Homo sapiens: one gene and its partners. The protein of the gene in region 1 interacts with the protein of each later gene in a pairwise test. Each region holds a gene or a part of one and is shown on either strand. Other genes may lie near its edges.

Evidence for each region. The genes of interacting proteins can lie anywhere in the genome.
Region 2: the proteins of C1QTNF2 (region 1) and MTX2 interact in binary tests that used the Homo sapiens proteins (3 or more experiments, as listed by UniProt).
Region 3: the proteins of C1QTNF2 (region 1) and HPCAL1 interact in binary tests that used the Homo sapiens proteins (3 or more experiments, as listed by UniProt).

What each region holds. Positions count from the first base shown.
Region 1 is NC_000005.10:160,347,244-160,353,645, forward strand, and holds the end of C1QTNF2 (complement C1q tumor necrosis factor-related protein 2 isoform 1 precursor), read right to left. Parts: intron 2,634-6,402; coding exon of another isoform or gene 2,539-2,633; coding exon 1,925-2,538; 3' UTR 511-1,924; downstream 1-510. UniProt on the Homo sapiens protein: Involved in the regulation of lipid metabolism in adipose tissue and liver.
Region 2 is NC_000002.12:176,321,421-176,328,449, reverse strand, and holds part of MTX2 (metaxin-2), read right to left. Parts: intron 5,059-7,029; coding exon 4,986-5,058; intron 1,626-4,985; coding exon 1,549-1,625; intron 158-1,548; coding exon 65-157; intron 1-64. UniProt on the Homo sapiens protein: Involved in transport of proteins into the mitochondrion.
Region 3 is NC_000002.12:10,417,883-10,424,911, reverse strand, and holds part of HPCAL1 (hippocalcin-like protein 1), read right to left. Parts: exon of another isoform or gene 6,447-7,029; intron 5,179-6,446; 5' UTR 5,155-5,178; coding exon 4,777-5,154; intron 1,930-4,776; coding exon 1,824-1,929; intron 388-1,823; coding exon of another isoform or gene 299-387; exon of another isoform or gene 1-298. UniProt on the Homo sapiens protein: May be involved in the calcium-dependent regulation of rhodopsin phosphorylation.

The DNA.
Region 1 (6,402 bases):
AGAGCTCTGGGGTCCAGCCCATCTTGCTGAGTTTGGATTTATTACCTGGGCTACAAAGGGTTAAGTCAAATGCCTTCAAATGCCTATATCCCTGAGGGAAGGAAGAGGAAGAAGCGAAAGGCTCTCCTAAAATTTATTTTTGTAAGAAAAAGAAAAGGTAAAAAGAACTGTTCACTGACCAAAGCTGACCCCTTCCCACAGGGGTGCTGCAGGGGACCCCAACCCACACGTCAATCTGATTGGGCCAGAAAGCCTTTCCTGAATGTTTCAGACCCACCCCAATCCCAAACCATTTATGGCCCAGAGACAATGGAGTTATTTTAAATAAACCCGATTTTATTTATGGAGATGGCCACTCCTTCTGGAACTATCCCGTGCAGCTATCCTTGTCCCTGAGGATCTCACTAGGCGGGCAGCCAGAGAAAGCTGCTAGGGAGCTGCAGCTCCAACTGAAAATTATCTCCAGCAAATCGTTTCATGGGTCTCTCAGTACCTGCGTTTTTGTTTTTGTTTTTTTTTTTTTTTTGTTTTTTTTTGAGATAGTCTCACTCTGTTGCCCAGGCTGGAGTGCAGTGGCAGGATCTCAGCTAACTGCAACCTCCACCTCCTGGGTTCAAGCGATTCTCCCGCCTCAGCCTCCCCAGTAGCTGGGATTACAGGCACCCAACACCACGCCTGTCTAATTTTTGTATTTTTTTAGACGATGTTTTGCCATGTTGGTCAGGCTGGTCTTGAACTCCTGACCTCAAATGATCCGTCCACCTCAGCTTCCCAAAGTCCTGGGATTATAGGCATGAGCTACCACATCCCGCCAGCACCTGGCACTTTTACTGCAGCTTCTTAAGCCCCCAGATCCCTGCATACTGGCAACACCTGTGCTTGGGGTGCGATTCATTTGCGTGGGATCCATTCCTGCCATCTCAGAGCAGCGGTTCTCAGATGCACGTGCATATCCTGGTGTATCTCATTCATTGAGAAGCGGGCCTGCAAAAGATTAACTAATAATAAAGCGCTCAAGTCTGTGGCCGACTTGACTCATGCAATGAGCAGATTCAAGATGATCCGCCTATCAGTGTCACTTTGTATTCTGATAAGCCTTCGTGAATGGAACGAGCTCTGCCATGGCCTGGGACATTCTGTATTATCTTCCAGCCTCACGCCTCATGCCTCCCTTCTCAGTTCTTACCTTGGCCCCTCCCTCTTTCCTGTCAAGGTCTTTGCACTTGCAGAGCCTTTTGCTGGAGACCTCTTTTCGAGGCCTTTGTGTTGCTCTATTTCCTTCTTTGGAACTCAGCTCAAAAATGGAAATTTTCCAGGTACTGACTTAGAGGGGTCTTAAGAGAGCTTTTGGGGAAGGGAGGTGAGAAGTTGGAAATAGCTTGTTCTTTGATCTACATGGAGGTTTCAGAGTGTGCACATAAGCAAAAATTATTCACTGAGTTGTCAACTTAAAATCTGGAGAGTCACTGTATGTAAGTAAACCTAAAAACGCAAACTTAAAAAAAGAAACAAATTTCCACCTCTTCCCTGTCTCCTGTTATTCCTATTACTGTCAACCATGGCATGTTCATTTCTATCCTGGCATAATATTATATTATTTGCTTGTATATTTGTAAATTGTATCTCCTGCTAGAATGTAAGCTGCATGAGGACAGATACTCTGTCTTGTCCACTGCTGCATCTTTCAGAGAATAGCATAGTGCCTGTTACACAGTAGATACTTTAAAAAGAAGTGAATAAATAGATGGTTGGATGAATAAAAAGGTTTGGATTTAATGAAGGGGAAAAAAAGAGGCAGAGGAGGTGAGCCTGAGGCTAGAACCGCTCACTCGACCCCCCACCCCCAGCCTACAGTTGTGGGGTCTTGCTCTGTAAGCCCAAGTCCAGAAGCTTGTTCCCTGCCTGGAGGACCGCCGTGGCATGTCTATACCTCGTTGGGGTCATCCTGGTCGGCATAGATTAGGAAGCCCGTAAAGAGGCTGTCTGTCCAGTAAGGGTCATAGAAGAGCCCGTTCTGCTCTGAGTAGAAGATCTGCAGCCAAACTTCGTCACCCTGCTTGAGAGCCAGGATGGTGGAGCCTGAGGCCACATCGTGGTTGCCGGTGTTGGCATCAAAGGTCCGGATGCGGTACTGGCCGTTGTGCACCAGGCCGATGGCCAGGTGCTTGTTGGCCAGCGTGATGTCGTAGGTGAAGTAGTAGATCCCAGGCACGCCGCAGACGAACTTGCCGCTGGAAGCATTGTAGTGGCCACCCTCGTTCATCAGAATCTTGTCAAACTTGATGGGCAGCCGCTCCCGTGGGTAGCTCTTGGTCACTGCCACCGAGAAAGCTGACTTGGTATGGCCACTGCCACAGCTGCAGGGGCCTGGGAGGCCTGGCTCCCCCTTCTTGCCCTTGGGCCCCTTCTTGCCTGGTGTGCCATGCTTCCCGGGGGTACCGTTGACCCCCTTGGGGCCACGGGGGCCAGCCCGCCCAATGGCCCCGGCTTTGCCCTTTGGTCCTGGCTTTCCCCGGTTACCTGTCCGGCCAGGTGGACCTGGAAGACAGAGCAGCTGGTGTTATGGAGGGTCCTCACAGACCTAGGCAGAGGGGTGCGGTGCGGCTTGGTCTTCCAATCTTGGAGAAGGAGTGCTTGGGTAATAGAAAGAACAAGAAGGCTTTGCAGACATATAGAAGTGGGTGTAAATCCTAATGCTAGCTCTCTGGAAAATGGAAATGATGATACTTACCTTCAAGAATCACTGTGGATCAGGGCAAAAAGAATAACTTGTAACAGTTCACACCCTTTCCTTTTCCTGCCTTCTAAGGAAGGGTCTGGTCTGTCTGCCAGCTCAATCCTTCCATGGGCTGCGCTGGTAATGGGTTGAGAAGAGAACTGGAAAAAGCCTCTTGATTTCAACACGTTGATCTTAGTAAAATCCCTGCCTAGTGCATATAAGCCCTGCCCACGTGTACAAGGATTTTATTGCAGCATTGCTTATAATAGCAAAAAATAGGAACAACTAAATGCCCATCCAAAGGCAAATGATAAAAAACATTACGGTCCATCTATACTGTGGATTTCTATGCAGGAGTTAAAAAAAAAAGTAGAGTTACGTGTGCTCTATGAAACCTTCTCTAACATACACTAAGAGGAAAGAGCAGGTGGCCAGACCCTTTGTGTTAAAAGGAAGGCAGGCCGGGCAAGGTGGCTCGCGTCTATAATCCCAGCACTTTGGGAAGCTGGGACTGGAGGATTGCTTGAGGCCAGGAGTTTGAGACCAGCCTGGGCAATGTAGCCAGACAGTCTCTACAAAAAATACAAAAATTAGTCAGGCATGGTGGCATATGCCTTTAGCCCCATCTACTTGGGAGGCTGAGGTGACAGGATCCCTTGAGCCCACGAGTTCCAGGTTACAGTGAGCTATGATTGTGTCACTGCATTCCAGCCTGGGCAACAGAGTAAGACCTTGTCTCTAAAAAATAAAAATTAGAAAAACAAAAGGAATGGAATCCACAATGCCAATTTTTTTTTTTTTTTTTTGAGACGGAATCTTGCTCTGTCGCCCAGGCTGGAGCACAGTGGCGCGATCTCCGCTCACTGCAAGCTCCGCCTCCCAGGTTCACACCATTCTTCTGCCTCAGCCTCCTGAGTAGCTGGGACTACAGGCACCTGCCACCACGCCCGGCTAATTTTTTGTATATTTAGTAGAGATGGGGTTTCACCGTGTTAGCCAGGATGGTCTTAAACTCCTGACCTCGTGATCTGCCCACCTCGGCCTCCCAAAGTGCTGGGATTACAGGCGTGAGCCACCACACCTGGCCCACAGTGCTAAATATTTCTACACCCATTTAAACGCATAGAAGAGTGCTTGGCCTATAGCAAACATTCCTAAATACTAGCTGGCATTCCCTGCAGAACAATTCCCCCAGTTGTGTTTTCCTTTAGAAGGCTTTTTGATGTTTCATACTCCAATGTTTCATAAAATGCACATTTCTCTCAATCCAACATTTTTGGCTACTGATTGCATAAAATCAATTTAGTTTATGTCCCCTCAACTCAATACAACATTTTAAGCAAAACCTATATGGATAATGACTTGAGTTCACTCGACACAAGGTTGTTAGAACCATATGAACTGGGTCAAGGAAGTAAAGTTTTAGGCATTTTACATCCTAACAAGTTACTTTGTTTCTTATACATTTGTATGTAGGCATTTCACTGTGTTTTAGAGTTTTGAGTTAATCTGTAATGCATCTGAATTTTTCCTATTTTACATAATTCGGAAATAGGTTTCCAAATTGCATTTTGTTACTGAACACTTGATTTTCAGGAACAGAGTGCTTATGTTAAGTGCCTGACAATGCCTGGTATTATTAAATACATATGTAAATATATAGAAAAAGGCCAGGAAAGATACATACCTAACCAATTAATAGTGGTTACCTCTGGAGGGTGAGGGAAGGATGAGAAGGGGTAGTAAGTAAGGAGGACTTTTGCTTTATGTGTATTGTTTGAATATATTACAATGAGACTGTATTTGTATATTACTCATATAATTAAAAATAAACAAAAAGAATGGGAAAAAATAAAACTCAGAAAAGTCACAAAGCTATTTCTTGAAAAAATGAAAATAAACAAAAGGTGGGAAAAGGGGCCAAGAGAAGAGGAATAGAGACAGAATCTTTTTTTTTTTTTTTTTAAAGATAGAGTCTCACGCTGTTACGCAGGCTGGAGTGCAGTGGCGCGATCATAGCTCACTGTAACCTCAAACTCTTGGGCTTGAGTAATCTTCCTGCCTCAGCCTCCTGAGTAGCTGGGACTTCAGGCACACACCACCACACTTAGTTAATTTTAAAATTTTTTGTAGAAATGGTGTCTCCCTATGTTGCCCAGTCTGGTCTCAAACTCCTGGCCTCCCAGTACTCTTGCCTTGGCCTCCCAAACTGCTGAAATTACAGGCATGAGCCACCACGCAGCCTCCAAGTCATTTTGACTTGGGGTTTTTGGCGGGAGACAAATAGATAAAAAAGCTTACCAGGAGGTCCTACCATGTATTATATAATGTGCTTTCCTCTTCTTTACCTTTTTTGAGAGACTTTGGGAAAAGCTGACTTTACTCTTGAAAGACTTTTCTGGAGGTGAATTTGTATGTGTGGTGATGGCGGGTGGTTGGATGTTATCCTGAATTGGCCCCAGGGTGACAAGCTTTGTTTGAGTTACATGCGCTGGGACTCTCCCAACACTGCCTTCCTTGGTGTGGTGGCTTCCTTCTCTGCAGAGACTCAACACACAGCAGAACAGATGGCCAAAGGCAGCCCCAGTACATGGTAGAACTTCCTGGTAAGCTTTATCTATTTGGGGAAGTCAACAGCAGAGACTCTGTCCCTCAGGATCCATAGGCAAATCTCAGGGAAAACTCTAGCTGGCCTGCTTGGAGCACATGTCCAGACCTGAGTCTGCCGCCGTGGTCAGGAAATTGGATATCATGATACCAGTGCCCAGCACGCTGGAAGACCCACCCCAGTTAAAGCTATGATAGTTACTTTTATACTAATCTCCTGGGGAGGAGGTACCTTTGAAGGAATTAGTTTGGTGTGGTAGGAAAAGACCTGGATTTGGAGTCAGCTATCTGCATGCTATGTGAGCTCAATAAGTCAATTACAGGGTGCCTAACATTTATTGTATGTCTATGCTGAGACTGGTCCTTCATACATTGTTTTATTTCATCTTTACCACAACCTTGTGAGACAGGTGCTATTATTATCCATATTTTAGAGATGAGGAAACCATGGTTTGGAGAGAAGTTAAGTAGTTTGTCAAAATCAGTGTCCAGGTTTGTTTCCAAAGTTCACGTTCTTGCGAGGATGACATTTTGCTATCAACTGAATCACTCTGACTCTCAGTATCCTCATCTGTAACATGGGGAAAATAAGAATCCCTCCGGCACACGATATGGATGGTCAGATGGGCAACATGTTCAAAAGTGCTTTGTCAATATTAAAATGCCATACAAATAAAAATTATTATATTTCTCTACTGCTTAAAATGTAGGCTTAGGGATGCTGCTGACACTGAAAAGTGCTTGGTTGCTGGGGTGAAAGTTTGGAGATATAAGGAATGTCACAACGGAAAGGTCTGTAGAGTATATCCATTCTGCTCGCCGTCTGCCTGGCATCCCTTCCTTTGGGGAGTTGCCCTTCACCATTTCATTTCATACGGTCCTAGCGGGGCTGTCAGTCACAATGACTGACTGCCCCCACCACCCACTCACACACACGCAGGGGTGGGTCCATGAGCCTGCCCTGCAAATGGAGGCACCTCACCTCCTTGGTCAAGGGAATTGGTCCAGGATACGCATGTGGCCAAGGAGAATTGGCTGTTCTGAGATTTGCTCTGTGGATGAAGCCAGGAAGATGT
Region 2 (7,029 bases), on another chromosome or scaffold:
AGATTATATTTTATGAGAATGAGAGAAAAAGCTTATTTTCAAGCCGTATCATCTAGTATTTTACCTCTGCAGTCAACAGCATATTGTTGACTAATTCCATGTAAGCTTTCATTTCTGCTTTTTGGACTTCCTCCAGCCCATCACTAAGAGAATGGCCCTAAAGGGAATTTAAAAAAATTTAAAAGAACATCATATTAAATATACAAAAACTTTCAGTTATCTCACTAACAAATAACGTAACATGCAACTATACAATGAATTAAACGTCCAAAATGCCCCCTAAAAATTATTTTATATAAAAGCATAAATAATACTCTGCTATCACTACAAAATATTAGTATGTACTTACTTGTCATTATACAAATGTATCTTTCAATAGAGAAAATTACACTATCAACTACTTCACAAAAGAAGAAAACAGAATGGTCAGCAAACCTTGTTTAAGAGATTAACCTTATTTAGAAATAAAGGAAATGCCAAAAGACTGACATGTGCTGTTTATAAAGTGGTCAAAGATGAAAAAAATACGTTTGTAAAGATATGGGGGGAGAAACCCACTTATTTTAAAATTCTAATACTCTATAGTTACTAGGAGATACATAAAATGATATAACCTTTAGTTCAATCTGGCAATCTATTACAAGATTTAAAAAGTACATAACCTATGACATCCTAATACCACTCTCAGGAATTTATCCTAAGGTACCAATACCAACCTTAGGAATTTATACAAAGATGTATATATAAGAAAATTTATCTTAGTACTCTATAAAAACAAAAAATTGGCCATGACCTAAAAGCCCAACAATAAACTTGAGTAAATAAAATTCTAATTTATCCAATACAGGGGGAGGGTGTTGAAGAAAAAAAAAATAATATATATATATATTTTGGAGATATATATATATCTCCAATACAGCAGAATACAACAATGTGAAAGGATGATATATACCTACAGCTATTAATATGGAAGAATTTCCAAACATATTTATGATTTTAAAAGGTATGTTGCAAAATAATACACACTAGTATGATCTAGGTTTTTCTATATATTCAAAAAGTCTGGAATGATTTTTCAGAAACACTAATGGGAGTTGTTCCTTAATAACTATTAAAATCTAAACTGAATAAATGAAAAGCAGAATCATTCAAATGGATAAATACATTCAACTTCAAACAAATCCTGTATCTCCCTTTTCAAAGGTCAGCCAGACACTTCAAAACCTAATAGTTTTTCATTTATGACCACAGTTGTAGTAAGCATAAGTTAGAAAATTATCTACCATTTTGTAAAGATCAAACCATCTCTTTAGACTAGATATTAAAATTACATACCTTTAATAAATTTGACATTAATAGAGGAAAAAAAGCTACCTCTTTTGCCATTATATCATGAAAAAATACTAACTTACACTTCAGAAATATTTTCCAGTAGTTTGCATTGGCATTTTATAAAACTAGGTTGAAATCAATGTAAATGTTAAGACACATTAAAGAATGATGAATGACTTGGTAACTGATCAAATACATTTAATATCTTTTTATTACCTTGGCTTTAACAAATTGGACTATTGGACCAAGTTCTGATACTACTTGATTTCCCACATGAATAAAAGGTACTTTACCTGTTGAGAGAAAAAAAAAGTATTTATAAAAATACTTCCAGTATGTTAAAGTTTGTGATAATTAAAAAAAATTAACACAAAACTCAGGTATTTATAAATAGGGATTTCATAAAACTGTAACTTTTGAAAATTTTTGTCAGATGTGTATATTAAATTCTGTAAGTTTTTAAACTGATTACTAACCAACTTTAGAAAAAAAGAACAGGTAAATTCATTTCTAGAGTTCTCACTTAGATATAATAACAGATCACATAACATTCTCTTTTCAGAGCCAACACAAACATATCACCATATAGCAGCAAACACTAATTATCCAAATTACATGAACCAAGCCAGGACACTGGTACATGACCACTGATATATTTCAAAGAAATGTAAGCTTTCTTTTCAGAGTACAGTGAATCAATCTATATTGTAAACTACATTTAAAAAACCTTTTTACATCTTTTAAGTCTTTGATACCCATTGAGATCAACATTTTAAGCAAGTAATTGTATATCAATAAATCTCTTTAACTCAAAATAGCAAGAATTAAAAGAATTAACAATCTTTGAAGGCATGCTAGTTGGTGAGTTGTAATACAGAGTATGTTCCCAACATGTGGGAAAAAATAATAGTATGTTTATAAAAACTAGCTTCTATAGATAAATGTCACATTAAAAAAGAAATATTTCACTTTAACAAATACTAATACTTGGAATTATTAGAGATGAGAGAACAAAATAATCTCCAAATAGCAAGAAGGGTCTACTCCAAATGCTAAAGAATGAAACCTGCTGTCACACCTAGTTCAAATAGAGTTCACACTAACAGCAGGCTTCTTCCTGTTCCTTTTCAATAGATTCACTCCTCTCTGGCTCCGTCAGCCTGGGGGTAATGGATGAAGTACAGAGGCCTAACAAAAGCTTCAACTGCATCCATAGGACAACATGCATTACAAAGAAAAGGCAGGCCTTTTGGAACACAACAACTCAATAGATGTATTGAGAAGATATTTCCCTGTTGCCAATTCTGCATTCCTTCCTTCTACTGCTTTATAAATCTTGCAAAAAAAAATTTTTTTATCTGGTTAAGCATTAGGCCACATTGTTTTCTTAACTCGGGATAAAATCTTTGTAACTACTATACTACCAGAATTATTACAGGTCCCCTGAGATCAAATGATCTGAGAATGAAAACTATTTAGTACCTAGACAAACAGTATTTGGGGGTATAATATTTTTAGAGCAAAGCATATTCCTTGTTTTTAATGACCAGTTTCAGGTTCTTGGAAAAAAGGGTTTGTATTTTTTTTCTTTTCTTAAAAATACATTGAGCGTTGTCAATTCTGAAGCAAAAAGAAGTGTGGATAGTCAACTGAGTATTAATCTTATATATCTCTAAATATAAAGAGATATATAAAAACAAACACAACAAATTAGAAGTGAATAATGTTTTCTGTCACTAGCCTGCTTAATGAAAATGGAGCCAATGTTATATCCTTATTATTGCAGGTATCAGGCAAAAACACAGTAAGACAGTTATTTTCTGGTGCGAATCAAAGGTCATATAAGAAAACTGAGGGCTTTGTTTACCGTCTTAGACAGAATAATCACTTTTAAAATTTTTATTCTAAAGAAAGCAAGAATATGTTGCCAAACAAGTTGGCAGATTCAAAGAATGCAAGAAATAGGACCTTGGATGTCATCTAATCCGGCTACCTTATATTACAGATGAAGTCACTGAGGCTCAGAGAAGTGAAATTTCTCAAGGAAATAGTTAATATGTGACAAAGTCACAGAAGGATTAGTTAAAGATTTCCTAACTCTTTAGGAAATAAGAGTTTAAGTCAACTGGTCTTCTGACTAGTCCATGCTCTCTGCTTTAAAAATCTACCGCAAGATCAAAGAAGCAAATACAATAAAAAACATTTCCCTATCACCTCAAATCATTAAATGAAAGAGAATACCAATCTGAGATATGATAAAGTTTAAATATCTTAGTAGAAAGTGCCATTTTCATCTACCTATAGGAGACTCCTATGAAAGAATGTATATTTTTGTATGTCTCTAGAATATTTATGTTTGTCTTTCGCGCAATCTAATAAAAAGAAAATAGGTATCTACCTAAATGACACTAAGTATAGTAATTTTAGGAAACAGGTAGATAAACTATATTGATATCTCACTTGCCAAAGATCTGAACTTTAGCATTAGATTACTAACCTTCTAACCTTTTTACATAAATATACAAACTGTTTGTATGACTACATAGAGGAAAAGGATGGACAAAACACAACATAACTTATTTCACCAGAACTCTGTAGTTCCTAAAATCTACGTATAAAACCAACACAAAAATGAGTCAATGAATGCCCTCCAAGAATCTAAAATATGTTTACATTTACAAGCCTAGAAATTATTTTATGGAAATGTTTTCTAAATGTATATTCATAAACCTCTAAAACCAGGTATTTATATAAAAGAACATTATGTACAGAAGGGGTGTCTTCATACCTTTTAACAATTTCTACCACCCTTAAAAACTTAAGGTGGAAAAAAAAAATTTAACACAAGTCACTCCTAAATTATCATATCAAAATGAAAAATGTCTCCCTAAAAAGCAATGTTACACACTTATACCAATCAGTTATACTTAATAATTTATTCAAAAAGGAGTAATTCTACGTATTATTGCTCCAACAAAACCATAATTACAATAATCATCCATGATAATTATATATAACATTTATTTATCAGCTTTGTAGCACATTTTTATATTAAAAATTTTGAATTATTTATTTAAAACAGTAATTTAATCTACTGACATAAAGATAATACTGATTTTAAAAAATAGGAAGCTAAAGCATCTCAAAACCTGTTAAAATTAAGCATTAGAAAAAATAATTAGAAACCAAAAACATTCAGTGATGACTTCAAGATCTAACGACAAATTAATTTTTCTACAATCTCTCTTCTTCCAGCTGTATTATGGGAGAATATAATTAAGAAAGATGTGTGGAATAATAAATGGATTCATTATTACTAAAATTTGTTTTCTCAACAGGAAAGTCTTATGTACATTAAGACTAGGGAAATCTGAGATCATGTATTTCCTTAACATTTACTATTTAAAACAATTCCCTTACTATTAAAACCATTTCCACACGTCAGTAACCATCTCTGATCACAGTTGAAATGAATAGATATGCCAACCCCAAGATTGTCAAATTTGCAATTGTTACTTTCTAAAACCATGGAAAGATTCTTCAAAGGGTAAACAAAAAAAATCAGGCATTTTAACATGTAGATACAAACTGGACTATCACTATAATTTTATCACTCCATAATATTAACAGAGAAGAAAAAAAAACACACTTACCAGATGGAGACATATATTCTGCATTTGCCCTACAAACTACTTTGATAGGCAAGTTACACATTTGCAAAAAGGCCTGTAAATCAAGATACATACAATAAGCCCAGTAAAAAGCATATGCATATTTGAACAGAAATTTGTATGCATTTCTTTTCTAAACTGAATAGTTTCATACTACAAAACTCTAATAGAAAACAATGAACCAATTTAAAGTGAAGGATTTGTTTTCCAAACAAAAATGTCATGTCACTACTTAAAAATCAGTATGATTTAGACATCAGTAAATACATGAAACTTAAAGTATGTATGTATACCTAAGGAATAAAATGTAAATTATCCACATTTATGTTACTGTATTAGTTTATGTAAACCAGCAATACTATATATATAGCTTTAATTTTCTTAAGTAGATGACTAAAGTCCAAATTTTATAAGCTATTAATTGCTTCATTCCACTATTTTCTATAGGATCATCATCTTCCTCATTTTAGAGGAAAACTCAAAATACTATCTCTGCTACCTCAAAGTTCTCTCCAGTAATACCCTATATTCCAACATGTAGTTTCTGTGCTCACGAATTCACTTTTTAAAGACTTAAATTGTTTATCTTTGCTCATAGTTACAAAAATGTTATAAGCAATTTAAATGTCTAATAATAAGGGTATGGGGTAAATCATTATAGTAAATCCAAACTATGGAATGCTATACACAATCAATTTTAAAACTCATGCTTTAGAAAAAATTTTACATCAAGAAAAAATGTACACATTATAATATTAAGTAAAAAAATGCAAAACTCTATTACTAGATCACACTAATTCATTTTTAAATGTTTTTAAGACACCAGTGAACTCTGCCAAACCCACTGTTTTTTACAATACTCAAAGTCCACTCCCCTTGTTCTCTCTTCTATGACTTCTTGGCTTCTTTTTCTCTATTCACAAAATTTACTATGTTATTTCTATAAAATAATTCAGTTATTCAATTGGGGAGGTCATAAGTTACAATGGTTCTAATTACCACATACAAATTGGAAGACAAACCTTTTGTCTATTTTGAAATTGAAAGTACTATAAATAGCTGTCAAAAGTAAGATAAGATAAATTAATAAATTAACAAGGATATTATTTATCATTTTACTCAACAGAGATTTCTCATAGGTTTATTATAATTCCTTCCTCAACTCTACATTAGAAATAAGTGTTAAGACTCTTAAGTGTTAAGGGTACAAAACAGTGATTAATATCTTGTACAAAGAACTCCATTTACCCAAAAGTATGTCAATTCTCTTCTGTTTTCTCAAAACTCCAGTCCTTTAGAGATGCCTGCCTCCAAAAATAAATCCCACGTGAGTCTGATTCCCCCACTAATTGCATCCTCTGATTCTTACATTGCTCTGTAACTTATGTATGCATGTCTGATCTCCTCAAGTAAATGGCATCTCTTAGAAAAGCAAGGGGGAGATTTTTAATTTTTTTTTTCAATTCTGTTCTCCTTCCCCCAATCTCCCTCATTTTCCCACAATTCATCTTTCATAGTGCACTACTTATAATAAGCAATATTGTTTACTGATTGAGCCATTCAAAGCTCCCAAGAGCTTATCCTGGTAGAGGCTGTTATCCCTGCCACATATGTTCTCTCCTTTCCCTACAGTGGTAGAAACTATCTGCACACAAGGCTGCCTAAAATAAAAACTTATTTTCCGGGCTCCCTTACAACTGGGTATGGCCAACTGGACTAAAAGTTCTGGACAACTGCTGGGAAGTTTCTTTAAAAGGAGAAAGTATCTCCTCTTTTTCCTCCCTGTTGACTAGAATGTAAAAAGGATGGCTATAGCTATAGCAGCCAAACAGAACCATGAAGTAGCAGCTGAGTGTTAGAAATGGTAGAGCAACAAGAGTAAAGGGGCCCAGGTTCTTGATAATCATGTAGTCACCAAACCTGGATTACCCGTGTTTGTCCGAGAAGTGAACTACCTTTTTAAGCTACCACTATATTGGGTTTCTGTCACTCACTGCCAAATCCAATCTTAATTAATTCACCTACA
Region 3 (7,029 bases), on another chromosome or scaffold:
ACCCATCAGCCCAGCCTAGAGGCCTGGAGCAGCCAGGCACCTTCCAGGGTGGCCAGGGAAGTTGGGGCAAACTCCAGGGCACCATCACTCCTGAGCAGTCCCCGGAGGAGCTTTGAGGGCCGAGGACCACTCCCTGAACTGACTCTGGCCCCTGGCTGCAGCCCCACCTTCCTGGTATCACTCTTCCCTCCTTGCCCCAAGCTCCAGGGACAGGCGGGTCCCCTGGGCTCACAGGAGGAAGTGCTCCATCCCAGCAGGCACATTAGCAACGACCATGCCATCCAAATTCCCAACCAACCTAGAAGATGCCCTCTGAAGAGGTGGGCAGGGCCAAGCCAGGAGGCAGATTCGGGCAGCGAGTGACCATGGGTGGCTTCCCCAGGGACACTGTGAAGTTGGGAACAACAGCCATTATTTGTGGAGTGCAAGCCCTGCTAAAAGCTTTAAGGCATCATCTCGCTGAAACCTCACAACCCCATGGGACCGGATTCACCATCCCCACGAGGAGCGGACAGCCTCAGGAGAGCGGCAGCAGGTGCCCTGCTAGGCTGGAGGGTGGAACACACATTTCCCATCAGCCCAAAGGCAACGCCAGGCACCAGGCAGCCTTGTTTTCTGTGTGTGTGTGTTTTGAAACTGTGACCTGGCTGCCTGGAATGCTCTTTGCTGCTTACAGCTCCCCCACATCCCGTCTCCCGCTGGGGCCATGCTTAACTCACCCGAGGGCTGCACTCCAGACTTCGCAGAGCAGCTTCTTGGGCATTAGCTTATCGTTTAATCCCCAGCACAACCCAGGGAGTATTTCCTCTTTATTTTTTTGAGATGGAGTCTCACTCTATCGCCCAGGCTGGAGTGCAGTGGTGCGATCTCGGCTCACTGCAAGCTCTGCCTCCCGGGTTCACACCATTCTCCTGCCTCAGCCTCCCGAGTAGCTGGGACTACAGGCGCCCGCCACCACGCCTGGCTAATTTTTTTGTATTTTTAGCAGAGACGGGGTTTCACCGTGTTAGCCAGGATGGTCTCGATCTCCTGACCTCGTGATCTGCCCACCTCGGCCTCCCAAAGTGCTGGGATTACAGGCGTGAGCCACTGCGCCCAGCCTGTATTTTCTCTTCTTAAGGTCGTGTTTCTTTATTGCTCAAAAGCAAAGCAAACCTGGTGCTGTGGCTGCTCTTGACAAAGCCGGCAAGAAGAGCAGAATGGGAGGGCCGCACAGCCGCCCTCACCTCACAGCCAATGCAGAGGAGGGCACTCGAGGCACAGCCCTGTCACCACTGCTGCCACCCACCATCGTGAGACTTGCACTTCTGCAGTGGGGCTGAGTCTCCACAGAGCTGCTGTAGGTGGACAAGGTGGCAGCGTACATCCTGACAGTTCCCCTTGGACACTGGGGCCATCTGGGCAGCTTCTTCTCTCAGGATGGCAGCAAGAGAGGCATGGCCAGCACCCCAGGACCCCAACATCTGGGATCCTTTGATCTCAACCCCTCCAGGTTCAGGGCCACCAGCATGCTTGCCTCCCTGCCCCTAAACATTGTACCCACGGGAATATGGGTATGCCCGATTCTATAAGTGGGGAGACAGTGGCTCAGAGAGGCCACAACATGCCCAGCATCACAAAGCTGCACAGAGGAGCCAGGATACAGCACGGGTGTCCCTGACTGCATCCCGCTCTTCCCTGGGCATGGCAGGCGCCAGGCAGGTGGCGGGCGGGGGTGGCCCTCAGGAGACCAAGAAGCTGCAGAGGGGAGGGGGTGCCCCAAACCACATGGTTTTGCCCCTACCGTGGCGTACACATGCAGCCCCGCCCCCACCCCGCACTACCGTCATTGTTGGTGTCCATCTGCCTGAAGATCTTGTCTGTGCGCTTCTCCGGGGTGGACTCATCCTCCGGCATCTTCATCACAGACGACACCATCTTGTAGATGGCCTGCGGATGGGGGCAATGACACTGTGCTCAGAGGCCCGGGGGCTTGGGCGGGTGCAGCAAGGGTGGGCTTCCGCCCAGCCCACAACAAGGCTCGGAGAGGTCAGGGGCTCCCGGTGGCCTTCGGGACCCTTCCCCAGTGGGGAGAATGTTCCCTAGTGAACCTCACGGGTGTCTATGTGAAGTTCAAGAGCAGAGCTGGCAGAAGGGTTCTACTGGGAGGGTGGTGAGGGTGCTGGTATCTCTGCCTGGGGGTGGGTAGTGCCAGGAAGGTGCCTAAGTGTCCCTGTCGGGGGCTGGGAATGCTGAGGGAGAGTGGTGGTCACAGATGTGTGAAATTCCCCACACTGCCTGCTGAGCTGTGTGCATTTTACTCCATGGCTGTTACCCCTCAGTTTAAAAGAGACTGAGTCCCTGAAACTCACAGGGCAAGCCCCATCACCAGCCCCGACAGGACAGGAAGCAGCAGCACTGGGGTCTCCATGGCCTGTTTAGGGCACTGTCAGCCGAGGGCTCAGTCTAGCCACTGGTCTCTCTGCGTGTCTCTGCCTGAGTGGCCCAGCCTGGGGCATGTGACTCTGTGCTGCTGGTGGGTGTACAGAGGAGACGGTGATGGGACTGGTGAGTGGCCACTGAGCAGAGTGACATGCGTGGGGAGTGGTGGCACTGCTGTGGGATTTTCTGAGCACTCCACGTGAAGGTGGCTTGATATTCTCATTCCTGACAACAGACCATTTTCTCATTGTGAGAAAGAGGTAGCAACCAAGTGTCCCATGAGAAACACCACCCAGCCGGCCAGGGAGCCATCGATGGCGTCGGGGGAAGGCTTTCAGGGTTTGGGGACTTGGTTTGGGGGCTGTCCCGTTTGGACAGAAGTGGCTGCTCCTCACTGCTTGGAACAGTTCTACCAGTGCCTTGATGTTCTGACCAAGCCTCTGCACGGCCAGTGACAGGCACACCTATTTGCAAAGGGTAAGGGTTAACACACAGGACAGGACGGGTGATTCCTGGGGAATAGAATTCTTACTTCCGCCACTGCATGAAGCTAAGAGCCAGAAAGTGACGACAGTACCAGAGTTCCCCGAGCCCATGTTAATTTACTCTGACAGTGTGAAAACCATCTACGTGGGAAATGGGTCGCTCATTCCTGAGGCGGGCCACTGCTGCTGCAGAAGTTCACGGATTTGATACCCGCTACTGGAGGCCCACCCCTGAAGTTCCCTACCATGGGACCACCCCTTCTGAAGAGTTCCATTTTTTTCTTATTTTGCTTTTGGTCTTTTTGGAGGCAGGGTCTCACTCTGTCACCCAGGCTGGAATGCAGCAGTGCAATCACAGCTCACTGTCACCTTGAACTCCTGGGCTCAAGCAATCCTCCCATCTCAGCCTCCCAAGTAGCTGGGACTACAGGTGCATGCCACTATGCCCTGCTACTCTTTTAATTTTTTATAGAGATGGAGTCTCACTATATTGCCCAGGCTGGTCTCAAACTCCCGGGCTCACGCGATCCTCCAGCCTCGGCCACCCAAAGTGTTGGGATTACAGGCCTGGCCATGAGTTCTAGAATTGGATGCTCCTGGGCTCAGGGAGGCACTCAGGGGAATGCCAGGGAGGGGCAGCTCTGCTCTCTACTCTCTCTCGCATACCTAGGCACCTGGCCAAGTGAACAAAACTTGGTTTCCTTCTGAAACATGGCCTTTCTGCTAGAGCTGTTGATAGGCATGAAGGTGAAGAGATGCCTCCTAAAGTGACGTCTTTCCCGTGCTGAGCTGATTCTCGTGATCGTTAATGCTTCAGTTTTACTTGATGACTGCGCATTCCTGGGGACATCACAAGCTATCTGTTGAGTTCTCAAATCCAGGGCTTTCCCCAGGTCTTGGCAGGTACCTCTTGCAAGTGCCAAGGAGCCCAGCAATCATACAATTCTTGGCCAGGCACGGTGGCCCATGCCTGTAATCCTAGCACTTTGGGAGGCTGAAGGCAGATCAACTGAGGTGAGGAGTTTAAGACTAGCCTGGCCAACATGGTGAAACCTCGTCTCTACTAAAAATACAAAAATTAGCTGGCTGCGGTGGCACATACCTGTAATCCCAGCTACATGGGAGGCTGAGACAGGAGAATCTCTTGAACCCAGGAGGTGGAGGTTGCAGTGAGCCGAGATCATGCCACTGCACTCCAGCCTGGGCGACAAAGTGAGACTCCATCTCCAAATATATATAAAATATAATTTTTAGAAATTCATCTATTTGAGTCTCAGACTTTGTAAAATGCAGAGAATGACCCACGTTGTTGGGTTATGAAGATGAAAACGGATCAAAGTGCTCCACCCGGCCCTGATGTATAGCAAGTGATCAATAAACATTGGCTTTTACCATTGCCCTTTGCAAGGGTCTGCCCAATCAGGTGACAACTGCTCACTTTCCAAAGTGCACCAGGTAGCAACCTGGCCAAGAAAGACCCAATGTCGAGTGAACATAAAGAACACAGGGAGGCCAGGCACGGTGGCTCACACCTGTCATTCTAGCACTCTGGGAGGCTGAGGCGGGCAGATCGCTTGAGCCTAGGAGTTCAAGACCAGCCTGGATAATGTGGCAAAACCCTCTCTCTACCATCAAAAATACCAAAAAAATTAACAGGGCATGGAGGTGCTCAAGAGGCTGAAGCGGAAAAATCACCTGAGCCCAGGAGGCAGAGGTTGCAGTGAGCTGAGATAGTGCCACTGCACTCCAGTCACTAGAGCAAGATTCCTGTCTTAAAAAAAAAAAAAAAAAAAAAAGCCCTGGGCTGGGGGCTGGGAGCTGGGAGGGGACCTGGGCCCGCGGTGAGACCCGGGGCCTCGGGCGCCGGTACCTGCACGATCTCCAGCATCTCGCTGCGGCTGATGTAGCCGTTGCCGTCCAGGTCGTACATGCTGAAGGCCCACTTGAGCTTCTGCTCCAGCTTGCCCCGCGAGGTCACGCTCAGCGCAATGATGAACTCCCGGAAGTCGATGGTGCCGTCGCCGTTGGTGTCGAAGGTGCGGAAGACGTGCTCGGCGAACTTGGAAGCGTCGCCGTAGGGGAAGAAGTTGGCGTAGATCTTCTTGAACTCGTCCACGGTCAGGTGGCCGGTGGGGCAGTCCTTGAGGAAGCCCTTGTACCACTCCTGCAGCTCGTGGTCGGTGAACTCCGTGTTCTCCCGCAGGTCCTGCAGCACCTCGGGCCGCAGCTTGCTGTTCTGTTTGCCCATGGCGGCTGGCGGCGGCGACTACACCTGCAAGACAGGGGGTCAGCCGGGGACGCCACCCACGGCCACGGAGCAGGGCTGAGCCATGTGCCGGAGAGACCAAATAAGCCCATCGCTGTGCAAGCGCTGCGACTCAGCAACTCCCGGGTCCCCCATCGGAAGGCATGCCGCTATCTTATGGACCACCAAGAAGGCCAAGAGACTCTAATTATATCACGACAGCTCACCCTCACACTGCGGGACACGTTCTCACTTGGAGAATGTGGAAATGCGGGGGGGAAAATGCAACTTAAAATCAGTGGAACAGGGCATCATCCGGTGCCCACCAGGGGTTGTACGAGAGGCGAAGATTAAAATCAGTTCTTACTTTCATCCCCCTCATCAGCTCCTGGCAAAGTGGCCACCTCAGCCACATCCCAGACTCTTTGGGGCAGTTCTTCCCTCTTTCAGGCATCACATTATGTTTTTATCTTTAGAAGAGGCGTCTAGAAACTTTCAGGGAGTCACCCCCACCCACCTTCTTTATTTGTTTATTTGTTTGTTTCTTTTGAGATGGAGTTTTGCTCTTGTCGCCCAGGCTGCAGTGCAGTAGCAGGATCACAGCTCACTGTAACCTCCGCCTCCCAGGTTCAAGCAATTCTCCTGCCTCAGCCTCCTGAGTAGCTGGGATTACAGGCATGCACCACCGCGCCCAGCTAATTTTTTGTATTTTTAGTAGAGACAGGGTTTCACCATGTTGGCCAGGCTGGTCTCGAACTCCAGACCTCAGGTGATCCACCTGCCTCGGCCTCCCAAGGTGCTGGGATTACAGGTGTGAGCCACTGTCCCCGGCCCACCCTCTTTATTTTGCCTTTGATAAACTGCCCCGGGTGGGAGGAGGATCTGGAATTAGCTCTAGGCAGTAAATGATGTTCTGAATGGAACCAGGGAAAAATGAGGCACCTGTGGGAACGAGGAACTGCTCTGCTCAAAACCATCCCCCAGGGCGGTTCTCCACAAGTCCTGAATGCAAGACTGATCAACCGGCATTCACACGGCTGCCACTGCACCACCTCATGTTATTTTCTTACATTAACAGTTAACTGATATACAGGGCGTGATAATTTTTGAAGTACATGGAAGAATGAGAAATAAAAAGATGTCTCCTACCCTAGCCACAGTGGCAACCACTTTGAACTCTGTGTTTGTGAATTCTAAACAGTAGGCACCAGCTCTCCATTATGAAAGGTAAGACAGACCACCCACACTGCCCACCACTTCCTTTCTTCTCTGCCTCTATCCCAGGGTTGTTTTTTTTTTTTTTTTTTTTTTTTTGAGATGGAGTCTCACTGTGTTGCCCTTCCAGGCACTTATGAGGAGTGTGCAGTGGTGTGATCTCGGCTCACTGCAACCTCCACCTCCTGGGTTCAAGCAATCCTCCCAACTCAGCCTCCTGAGTAGCTAGGATTATAGGCATGCACCACCACACCTGGCTATTTATTTATTTATTTATTTATGTATTTTTAGTAGAGACAGGGTTTCACACTATGTTGGCCAGGTTGGTCTCAAACTCCTGACCTCAAGTGATTCGCCTGCCTTGGCCTCTCAAAGTGTTAGGAGTATAGGCATAAGCCACCACGCCCAGCCCATCCCAGGTTTTATAGTACATACATGTTTTTGTTTTTACTTATCCTCTCTATATCAATCAATCAATCTATCTATCTATTTTTTATTTATTTATTTTTTGAGACAGGCTCTCACTCTGTCACCCAGGCTGCAGTGTGTGATCATGACTCACTGAAGCCTTGACCTCCGGTGCTCAAGTGATCCTCCCACCTCAGTCTCCTGAGTAGCTGAGACTATGGGCACACACCACCACACCCAGTTAATTTTTTTTTT